Homo sapiens: one gene and its partners. The protein of the gene in region 1 purifies or fractionates together with the protein of each later gene. This does not show direct contact. Each region holds a gene or a part of one and is shown in the gene's direction. Other genes may lie near its edges.

Region 1 (3,648 bases):
AAATAACGTGGGCATCTCTAGGGTGAGAGAATTAATCCATTGCCAACCCCTCATTCCATCTCTCACCTCTCCTCCCCAGCACCCTTGTCTGTTTTTGAATCCTAGCCCAAGCAGAGATGCTTTCAGAGTTTGAGGAGAAATGACTTCCCTTATGGTTTACAGGCCAGAAATAAGCGGAAACAAGAGACCAAGAGCTTAAAGCAGAAGGAAGCTAAGAAGAAATCCAAGGTAGGTGCATGTACAAACTTGCCAAGTATAATTTCGAAGCCACTAAACTGATTTTGCAGGACATGTACATCAGTCTTGTTTTATAGTGAGATTTCTGGGCTGTGAGGTTGGGAGGACTGGGACCAGGGAAGGATAGTGACTGATATCTTTATGGCAGTCTTGGTTCCTCTCTTCCTTGGGTAGGCTGAGAAAGAAAAAGGAAAGACAAAGCAGGAAAAACTGAAGGAAAAAGTCAAGAGGGAAAAGAAGGAGAAGGTAAAAATGAAGGAAAAGGAGGAGGTGACCAAAGCCAAGCCAGCCTGTAAAGCAGATAAGACCCTGGCCACACAGAGGCGCTTGGAGGAACGGCAGAGGCAGCAGATGATCTTGGAGGAAATGAAGAAGCCGACAGAGGATATGTGTCTGACTGACCACCAGGTAGTGAGGAGAGAGTAACAGTTCCTGGGTCAGCTGGGAAGACTTTCCTTTAAAAAAAAAAAAAGGACTTCTGCAATGGGAGAGACATTTCCATTAAAGATTAAAGGAAGGCCGGGTGCCATGGCTCACACTGTAATCCCAGCACTTTGGGAGGCCGAGGCGGGCAGATCGCTTGAGCCCAGCAGTTCAAGACCAGCCTGGGCAACATGGCGAGACCTCATCTCTACAAAAAATACGAAAATTAGCTGGGTGTGGTGGCATGTACCTGTAGTCCCAGCTATTTGAGAGACTGAGGTGGGAGAATTGCTTGGGCTTAGGAGGTCGAGGCTGCAGTAAGCAGAGATCATGCCACTGCACTCCAGCTTGGGTGACAGAGTGAGACCCTATCTCAAAAAAAAAAAAAAAATTACATAAAAATTAAAGGAAGAACCTCTTGTAGACATGCAAATTGTCATCTTCTGTTATGTTTAACAGAACTCTCTACTCACTTTTCTCTCTCTAGCCCCTGCCTGACTTCTCACGAGTCCCTGGTCTGACATTGCCCAGTGGAGCCTTCTCAGACTGCTTGACCATTGTGGAGTTCCTGCATAGCTTTGGCAAGGTGCTGGGCTTTGATCCTGCCAAAGATGTGCCTAGCCTGGGGGTCCTGCAGGAGGGACTCCTGTGTCAAGGTGACAGCTTGGGTGAGGTGCAAGACCTGCTGGTCAGGCTGCTGAAGGCTGCACTCCATGATCCTGGCTTTCCCTCCTACTGTCAGGTGAGTGCAAGTCCCTCCCAAAGTAACCAGGACAAGTAAAGGAGATGTAACTACTTAGTGTTTCTCTTTTCCTTATATTTTTCCATTTCTTTTTCTTCCTGACTCCTCTCCTTATTTTATTTTTCTTTATTTTTTCCTTTTCTTTTGTGGTCTTCTTTCGTATTCTGTCTTAACCCCCATAGTTCTCTTCTGATGTATTTTCCTCTTGCACATTCACCCAACTTGGTTGTGCATCTTTCCCTACTCACCCCCATTATGCTGTCCTCCACACAGTCCCTAAAGATCTTGGGGGAGAAGGTGTCTGAGATCCCACTGACAAGAGACAATGTGTCAGAGATCCTGCGCTGCTTCCTTATGGCATATGGAGTAGAGCCAGCCCTCTGTGACCGCCTGCGCACCCAGCCTTTTCAGGCCCAGCCACCCCAGCAGAAGGCTGCTGTCCTGGCCTTCCTTGTGCATGAGCTCAATGGCTCCACCCTCATCATCAAGTGAGAGGCTGGGAGTGGGGATGGTCATTGTATCCCTTGCATCAGAATGGGGTGGAGGACTTGTAGCCTTCCAGAAGTCCTCAGAAATGTGTGTTCACTGCCATGTTCTGAAGATGCTGGAATGACTTGGGACTGAATTGCAGTGCCCTCCCTGGGAGAGCCTAAGCCTTCTGCCATTCACCCAATCTGGGTTCTAGGCTGGAACTCCTTTTTCAGCTGCAGCCCCTTTACCCTTGAGCCTCCTTTCCCTTTTTTTGTGCTGCCACTTCATCCTATTCCCTATTCCCCTGCAGTGAGATTGACAAGACTCTGGAGAGTATGTCCAGCTACAGGAAAAACAAGTGGATTGTTGAAGGCCGGCTCCGGAGGTAGGGACCAGACAGAGAGTAGAGCCTCAGAGAGGAGAGAAGTGGGGCGGGTGAAGCATAGCCAGGGTTTTGGCTTGAAATGTGATGCTTTAGCCCCTTCCCTGGGTTTGGGACCTTACCAGGGCCCAGGATGGTTTAGAGTCAAGGTATTTCTTTTGTGGCACTATCATGTTCCTCACCAGTTTCCCGTAATTTTTTTTTTTTGAGATGGAGTCTTCCTCTGTCGCCTAGGCTGGAATGCGATAGCGCAATCTTGGCTCACTGCCACCTCCGCCTCCCAGGTTCAAGCGATTCTTCTGCCTCAGCCTCCCAAGTAGCTGGGATTACAGGCCCATGCCACCACACCTGGCTGATTTTTGTATTTTTAGTAGAGACAGGGTTTCACCATGTTGGCCAGGCTGGTCTCGAACTCCTGACCTCAGGTGATCCGCCTGTCTTGGCCTCCCAAAGTGCTGGAATTACAGGTGTGAGCCACCACACTTGGCCTTCCCTTAATCTTTCTCCATCTATTTCAAGGCTGAAAACTGTTCTGGCCAAGCGAACTGGGCGGTCTGAAGTAGAGATGGAAGGGCCAGAGGAATGCCTGGGACGGAGGCGCAGTTCTCGGATCATGGAGGAGACCAGTGGCATGGAAGAAGAGGAAGAAGAGGAGTCTATAGCAGCTGTCCCTGGCCGCAGGGGTCGAAGAGATGGAGAGGTACTGGCCCAAGATCAAGGAAAGTGGGAGTTAGAAAATAAATTCCTCTTTCTTGAATCTGATAACCTCCTTTTTCATAATGCCCATGTGTTTCTCCCTAGGTTGATGCCACAGCATCTAGCATCCCAGAGCTAGAGCGCCAGATAGAAAAACTCAGCAAGGTATTGTGCTTCTAACCTCCCAAGAGTTGGAGATATGGGCTGGGCAAGAATTGATCAGCTTCTTTTTTAAACTGAATTTTAATTTTTATTCTTTTGAGATGGGGTTTCTGTTACCCAGGCTGGAGTGCAGTGGCACGATCATGGCTCACTGCAGCCTCAGCCTCCTGGGCTTAGGTGATTCTCCCAAGTAGCTGGGACTACAGGCAGGAGCCACCATGCCTGGCTAATTTTTGTGTTTTTGTAGAGACAGTTTCCATATGTTACCAAGGCTGGTTCTGAACTCCTGGGCTCTAGCAATCCACCTGCCTTGGCCTCCCAAAGTGCTGGGATTACAGGCGTGAGCCACCGCTCCCAAACTTAATCACCTTCTGAATTAGGCCCAGATGGCATCACTTTTATAGAGGGACTGAGAGCCATTGCCTTTCTCTGATATACTGGATGAATTCACCACTGTCACTCTGGAAATGTGTTTATTCATCTTCATTTTCATTGTCTACCCAGCGTCAGCTTTTCTTTCGCAAAAAGCTGCTTC
Region 2 (3,648 bases), on another chromosome or scaffold:
GATCTCTCAGGCTTAAGCAATCCTCCTTACCTCAGCCTCCTGAGCAGCTGGGACTACAGGCACGTGCCACCATGCCCGGCTTTTTTGTAGAGATAGGGTCTTGCCATGTTTCCCAGGCTGGTCTTGAACTCTTGGGTTCAAGTGATCCTCCTGCCTTGGCCTCCCGAAGTGCTGGGATTACAAGTGTGAGCCACTGCGCCTGATCTCTCTGAGGGCAGATCCTGAATATGGTAGTATACTGATTCTGTTTATTTGTAAGCTAGTGATTGCTTTCCACTTCTACGTTGTAGCTCTCTTTCCAAGGAATTGCTTTTCTAAGTTTTTACGGCCTCGACTTGCCAAAAGGATCTGGGAAGTATTTGGTACTTCAGAGCTTTTTGTCAACTCTATCTTTCAGACCACCAAAGATGTGGTTCCCCAGTGCAGCTCAAGGTTCTAGCACCTAAGCATCAGATTCTTACCCTTTCTTACTAGCCTGGGCTTGAGCTAGAGACGCTAAAGTAGCCAAGAAAGGGTTATCGTGATCCAGAAATAGAATGGAAAGTAGTGTTTCTGGATTATTCGTGTCACTGCCTTCCTAGACCTCTGTGTCCAGTGTCATCTCCCCACTCCCCAAGGGAAGGTGGTGGAGAGCCTGGAGCTAAATCCTCATGGCATTGTTTCCCAGGGCTCACTGAGGAATGCCAGTTGGCTTGATGGTGAGCACCTGTTGTAAACCTGAGACACAAGTAGTCTCAGTGCCTTTGTGTGTGTGTGTGTGTGTGTTTTTTTTCTTTTGTGAGATGGAGTTACACCCTTGTTTCCCAGGCTGGAGTGCAGTGGCGTGATCTCGGCTCACTGCAACCTCCGCCTCCCAGGTTCAAGCGATTTTCCTGCCTCAGCCTCCTGAGTAGCTGGGATTACCAGCATGTGCCACCACGCCCTGCTAATTTTGTATTTTTAGTAGAGACGGGGTTTCACCATGTTGGTCAGGCTGGTCTTGAACTCCCGACCTCAGGTGATCCACCTGCCTCAGCCTCCTAAAGTGGTGGGATTACATGTGTGAGCCACAACGCCCGGCCTATATTCTTTATTCTCTCATTGGGGATCCTGGGCAGGGCTCTTATGGAGGGGACTAGCCCTAAATTGTATTTAATGAGGAGCCTTGTGGCCCTTCATGGAAGTACCAGCTTTTCTCTGGAAAGATTCTGATGGTAAGTGTAGAATAACTCTGGGAATTACAACATAGGGTTTGTTTTACAATCCAGTTCCATCTTACATGTAAATACATCCACTCGCTCAGGCTGAGCTTGGGCTGTGGGAAATCCAGGCTGACCTATTAGCAAATGGCTTCTCATGAGTGAGAGTTTACAGTTGATTCCTGCAGGGGCCTTATGGCTGGGAGTAACTGCAGGACGGGGCAGGACAGAAGTACTGAAGGACCTAGCCCTCTGAAGGGCTTTGGCAGTGGATGAAAGGCACCCATTCTTCATCGGCTGCCACTGCCTTTTAGTGTCCTGTTAGGTAAGGCAAGATAAAATAGCAAGAGCACCTTAAAACCAAAGGAGGCCACTGCTTTCCTTGTCCAGGAAAAGGATTCTCCCTGCATCCCTTTCCCCCATTTCGAAGATGCTCCTCCCTTCACCTTCCGTTGTTCTCTGCTGAATCCATAGTTTTTCTTTCAGTGAGACCTCGAAAGACCATCCGGGGCAAGCACAGCGTCATCCCCCCTGCAGCAAGGTCAGGCCGGCGCCCGGGTAAGAAGCCACACTCTACCAGGAGGTCTCAGCCCAAGGCACCACCTGTGGATGATGCTGAGGTGGATGAGCTGGTGAGAATTATTTATCATCCCTTCTCTAACCTTTCTGTTTCTTATTCCCTACCCCAGCAATTAGGAATTCATCAGGCAACAGGTGGGAGGGGAGCCTCCCCCCTCCTCCTTCTTACCAAACTTGGGAGGCTGGGGAGGCAGATGGGTGAGCCTGTACGCAGACAGAAGCAGCAAGGCCTCCAGGAACAGCTATGTCCGGCATTCCCCTGCTGTAGCCTGCAAACTAGTTAGCGGGCAGCCTGCAACTTATTAAGGATTTAAAAATAGTATCCATGTGTCTCCAGTGGGCTCAGAGGGGCTGGGTCTTCATTGTGGGAATGTCAGCAATGCTGGAGCCTCACTTACTGTTGAGTCGACAGTTGTTATGGGAGGGACATTACCCTCCCCTCTGCTCCTTAACCAATGTAATTTTAGTAGTTTTTAGATCTCACTTGAGCTTTAAAGAACAAAAAAGAAACTCTTGAAAAGGTGCTTGTTTTGACAGATCAAATTGGAGTTAGGGGCTTAAGGCAGGCCATTTGGGAGATCATAAGGCATTAGAAGATGCTCGGTTTGCCACAGCCTTGGGCTCTGTGGCCTCTGCTGTGAATCACAGCTTTTGTTATGGCTACCTGGAATGGAGGCCCCGCCCCTTTTCTCTTTAGCCACTTAACCCTCACATGTCTACGGTGGAAGAGCCCAGGAAGGGAATTGGACCTCTTGCTTTTCTTACCAGAGGCACCCCACCCCCACAGAATTGGCTGCTGTTGGCCCAGATAGCATGTTTTGCTTTCTGCAGTGGCTTGTTGATGCCCTTCCATGGTGTCACTGTAACCCCAGGTCCACCTGTTCTCTGAGAGCTAGTGTCCTGTTGACAGTAGCCCCCTTCAGCCGACCTCCAGCAGGACTGCTGGTAAAGGCGGCCCCCGCTGCCTGCTCTTTGCTGCTTTGATTGCCGTGGCCCCGGGGGAGGCGAGTGAGTGGACTACTGGGAAGATGCCTGCCACCTGGGCCGAGGGTGCTCCCTGACTTGAATATCAGAAGGTTTCAGCACCTCTGCGCCAAGGAAATAGTTGAACTCTCTTCCTTTTTTGAGCAGATACACTTATTTTCTGCCCTGTCCATTCTTCCTCCTGTCTTGAATCTGTAATAACATTGTTCTTTCTTTCCTGCCAGGTGCTTCAGACCAAGCGGAGCTCCCGGAGGCAAAGCCTGGAGCTGCAGAAGTGTGAAGAGATCCTCCACAAGATCGTGAAGTACCGCTTCAGCTGGCCCTTCAGGTGAGTGCTGTGTTCTCAGGTGCAGGGGAGAGGAGTGGCCTGGCTGGTTCTAAAAGCTTCCAGAGCCCCTGAGGGGCTCTCAGCCAAGCCCTTGCTTTTCAGGACGTGTCTCAGTGGCAGGGGCACTGCCGTCAAGGCTGTGCAGATTCTCCATTTGGTTCTTCTCCACAGGGAGCCTGTGACCAGAGATGAGGCCGAGGACTACTATGATGTGATCACGCACCCCATGGACTTTCAGACAGTGCAGAACAAATGTTCCTGTGGGAGCTACCGCTCTGTGCAGGAGTTTCTTACTGACATGAAGCAAGTGTTTACCAATGCTGAGGTTTACAACTGCCGTGGCAGCCATGTGCTAAGCTGCATGGTGAAGACAGAACAGTGTCTAGTGGCTCTGTTGCATAAACACCTTCCTGGCCACCCATATGTCCGCAGGAAGCGCAAGAAGTTTCCTGATAGGCTTGCTGAAGATGAAGGGGACAGTGAGCCAGAGGCCGTTGGACAGTCCAGGGGACGAAGACAGAAGAAGTAGAGAGGCAGGGCCGTGGTAAGGGAGCTGAGGTGGGGGGACAGCTAGGGAGG
Region 3 (3,648 bases), on another chromosome or scaffold:
AGACACATGTGAAAGAGGACCCTGCTGTATCCTCAGAAAACAATGGCACCATTTCCTCCATTCTCAATCTGCTTTCTTCATGGCTGGAAAAGAAAGTTTTCCAGTTAAAAATGATTATGTGCAAAGATAGGAAACATTCCATCAACATTAACATATTTAATAATTTATGATTAATTCAAATGCATAAATTTCACATATTACCAGCTCACATGTTTCTTCAACAGTTCATCAGATAACTATCTTGAAAATTTCTGCTTGAAAATTTGTTCCCTTGACCACCCTTTTGCCCTCTCTTAATCAGTCTCCTCTCTCTCTCTCATCTTTTCTTCCTTCTGCTATCAAACTTTTCCTACTGGATCTCAGCCACCGATCCCAGTTCCCTTTTACTTCCTGGTAGTCTGGCTGTTGATCCCTTTGCTCTGAGGCACTCTAGATTTAAGGTCTTGCCAGTGATGTGACCTTCTCTATGTATTTCAAGTACCTATCAAGAGGTAGGTGGTAGAATGGAAGGACCACAAGCTTAGGTGTCAGAGTGTCCTGGGTTTGAACCCTTGTTCAATTTGTTCTATGGGAAGCTCCTCCTCCTCTCTGAGCCTTCATTCCCTTATCTGCACAATGAGGGTAATAATCTACTTCGCAGCGTGTTGTGAGGAATAAATAAGCTGGAAATTTATTGAGCACTTATAATTCACTATGCACTATTCTAAGAACAGGGCTTATCTCATTTAATCCTCACAACAAATCTATGAGATAAGTACAATCACTTCTCTTGGGTTACCAACGAAAAAACTGAGTTCCAGGGTGGTGAAGAAACTAAAAAGATCACACAACTACAAGAGCAGAGTCAGGATTTGAACCCAGATAGACTGAGCTTAACTACTGGCTGTGCTGCCTCTAATATAAAGCACAAAATAAGAGCTTTTACAAGGTTACACTGGCCTGGTGTGGTGGCTTATACCTGTAATCCGAACACTTTGGGAGGCCAAGGTGGGAGGATAGCTTGAAGCCAGGAGTTTGAGATCATTCTGGGCAACATAGCAAGACCCTGCCTCTACAAAGAAAATGTTTTAATTACCTAGGCATGGTGATGCACACCAGTAGTCCTAGCTACTTGGGAAGCTGAGGTAGGAGGATCACTTGAGCCGAGGAGTTTGAGGTTGCAGTGAGCTGCGATCGCACCACTGCACTGTGAGCCAGGCCTCATTCCCCGATCAGTACCCCCCAAAAATGTTACATTGTAGAGTGAAAAGAATGTAGATGCTAGAGGCTAACAGATCTGGGTTTGAATATTGGCTGTGCCACTGACTAGCTGAGAGATTTATGGAAAATCACTTAATCTCTCCTACTCTGCTTCCACGTCTGTAAAAATTTCATTGCTCCACTTTTCTTCAGGCCTATAATATAGGTTAATATAATCATTTATATAAAATGTTCATCATAGTGTCTGGCTCACAGTAAACATTTGATATATGGCATTTGTTAAAATTAGGATAGGAAGTGACATCAGAAGCACAATAAATATTTGTATAAGACAAAGCATTTATTGTCTCCAGCAAGAACCAAAGTAAAAATTCTTACCATAATTTTCCAGGTCTCAGATTCATGTCCAAACTACTGCTTCTGCTTCAACCTTCCTACCAATGACTTCCTAGTAAAACCCCTTAGCTTTTTTTTTTCTTTTCTTTTTTGAGACGGAGTTTCACTCTGTCACTCAGGCTGGAGTGCAGTGGCACAATCTCGGCTCTCTGCGACCTCCACCTCCCGGATTCAAGCGATTCTCCTGCTTCAGCCTCCCAAGTAGCTGGGATTACAGATGTGCACCACCACACCCAGCTAATTTTGTATTTTTAGTAGAGACCAGATTTCACCATGTTGGCCAGGTTTGTCTCAAACTCCTGACCTCAGGTGATCCACCCACCTTGGCCTCCCAAAGTGCTGGGATTATAGGCGTGAGCCACAGTGCCCGGCTGGCCCCTTCACTTTAGAAGGGAGGGTGTCCGCCCCCTGGGCTCTGCTCAATCCTACCAGTGGGTGTTTATAAAGTAGGTTCTGATATAGGTATGGGAACCCTGCATCCCAAATTTTCTAGGGCAATTCTGATTTTCTTCTCCCTTATCAGACTGTATGGCAAACAAAGTGTCCCAAGTTGAGAGTCAGAAAACAGTATCACCAAAAATATAGGCTATCACTTGTTTTCTTGCTCCATGCATCTTTGAAAATAAAATGCTGTCCTTTGTGCCCAGATTATACTAAAAAAAATAACAAAATAAACCTAGGACCTATGCCTCTTGCCATGCCATTAGTCTACAATTTTTTTTTTTTTTTAAGACAAACTCTTGCTCTATCACCCAGGCTGGAGTACAGTGGCATGATCTCGGCTCACTGCAACCTTCTCCTCCTGGGTTCAAGTGATTCTCCTGCCTCAGCCTCTAGAGTAGCTGGGATTACAGGCATGCACCACCATGCCCGGCTAATTTTTTGTATTTTTAGTAGAGACGGGATTTCACCATGCTGGCCAGGCTTGTCTTGAACTCCTGACCTCGTGATCCCCCTGCCTCAGCCTCCCAAAGTGCTAGGATTACAGGTGGGAGCCACGGCACCCAGCCTAGTCTGCTCTTTTTCTCCTAAAATAAGGTGGTGGATTTATGAATACAAAGAGTCTAAGAATGGTGGACTAGGTCTAGCAATGCTGTTCCTCAGCAGCTTTTTGGACAGAAGTCTTTGTAGACCTGTGGCTCTCTCACTTGATGTAGACCCATTTGAATGAATCTCCTTTTGCTTTCTCTTTCTTTAATATTTTTCAGGTACGAGCAGGTGATAATAAATATATGCACTTGAAAGTATTCAAAAGTCTTCCCGGACAAAATGAGGACTTGGTACTTACTGGATACCAGGTTGACAAAAACAAGGATGACGAGCTGACGGGCTTTTAGCAGCATGTACCCAAAGTGTTCTGATTCCTTCAACTGGCTACTGAGTCATGATCCTTGCTGATAAATATAACCATCAATAAAGAAGCATTCTTTTCCAAAGAAATTATTTCTTCAATTATTTCTCATTTATTGTATTAAGCAGAAATTACCTTTTCTTTCTCAAAATCAGTGTTATTGCTTTAGAGTATAAACTCCATATAAATTGATGGCAATTGGAAATCTTATAAAAACTAGTCAAGCCTAATGCAACTGGCTAAAGGATAGTACCACCCTCACCCCCACCATAGGCAGGCTGGATCGTGGACTATCAATTCACCAGCCTCCTTGTTCCCTGTGGCTGCTGATAACCCAACATTCCATCTCTACCCTCATACTTCAAAATTAAATCAAGTATTTTACAAAGTGTGTGTGTGTGTGTGTGTGTGTATATATATACTTTTTTTTTTTTTTTTTTTTTGAGACAGAGTCTCGTTCTGTCACCCAGGCTAGAGTGCAATGGTGTGATCTCGGCTCACTGCAACCTCCACCTCCCAGGTTTAAGCGATTCTCCCATCTCAGCCTCCCAAGTAGCTGGGATTACAGGCACCTACCACTGCGCCTAGCTAATTTTTGTATTTTTAGTAGAGACAGGGTTTTGCCATGTTGGCCAGGCTGGTTTCGAACTCCTGACCCTAGGTGATCTGCTCGCCTTGGCTTCCCAAAGTGCTGGGATTAC

The links.
Region 2: the proteins of BAZ2A (region 1) and BAZ1B fractionate together in Homo sapiens (co-fractionation; one study listed by IntAct). This does not show direct contact.
Region 3: the proteins of BAZ2A (region 1) and CSTA purify together in Homo sapiens (affinity purification with mass spectrometry; one large-scale study listed by BioGRID and IntAct). This does not show direct contact.

The regions. Positions count from the first base shown.
Region 1 is NC_000012.12:56,602,827-56,606,474, reverse strand, and holds part of BAZ2A (bromodomain adjacent to zinc finger domain protein 2A), read left to right. Parts: intron 1-162; coding exon 163-228; intron 229-411; coding exon 412-645; intron 646-1,147; coding exon 1,148-1,402; intron 1,403-1,675; coding exon 1,676-1,890; intron 1,891-2,183; coding exon 2,184-2,258; intron 2,259-2,774; coding exon 2,775-2,955; intron 2,956-3,056; coding exon 3,057-3,116; intron 3,117-3,617; coding exon 3,618-3,648. UniProt on the Homo sapiens protein: Regulatory subunit of the ATP-dependent NoRC-1 and NoRC-5 ISWI chromatin remodeling complexes, which form ordered nucleosome arrays on chromatin and facilitate access to DNA during DNA-templated processes such as DNA replication, transcription, and repair.
Region 2 is NC_000007.14:73,442,146-73,445,793, reverse strand, and holds part of BAZ1B (tyrosine-protein kinase BAZ1B), read left to right. Parts: intron 1-1,664; coding exon 1,665-1,810; intron 1,811-2,965; coding exon 2,966-3,069; intron 3,070-3,240; coding exon 3,241-3,598; 3' UTR 3,599-3,613; exon of another isoform or gene 3,614-3,648. UniProt on the Homo sapiens protein: Atypical tyrosine-protein kinase that plays a central role in chromatin remodeling and acts as a transcription regulator. Involved in DNA damage response by phosphorylating 'Tyr-142' of histone H2AX (H2AXY142ph).
Region 3 is NC_000003.12:122,338,635-122,342,282, forward strand, and holds the end of CSTA (cystatin-A), read left to right. Parts: intron 1-2,804; coding exon 2,805-2,933; 3' UTR 2,934-3,335; downstream 3,336-3,648. UniProt on the Homo sapiens protein: This is an intracellular thiol proteinase inhibitor. Has an important role in desmosome-mediated cell-cell adhesion in the lower levels of the epidermis.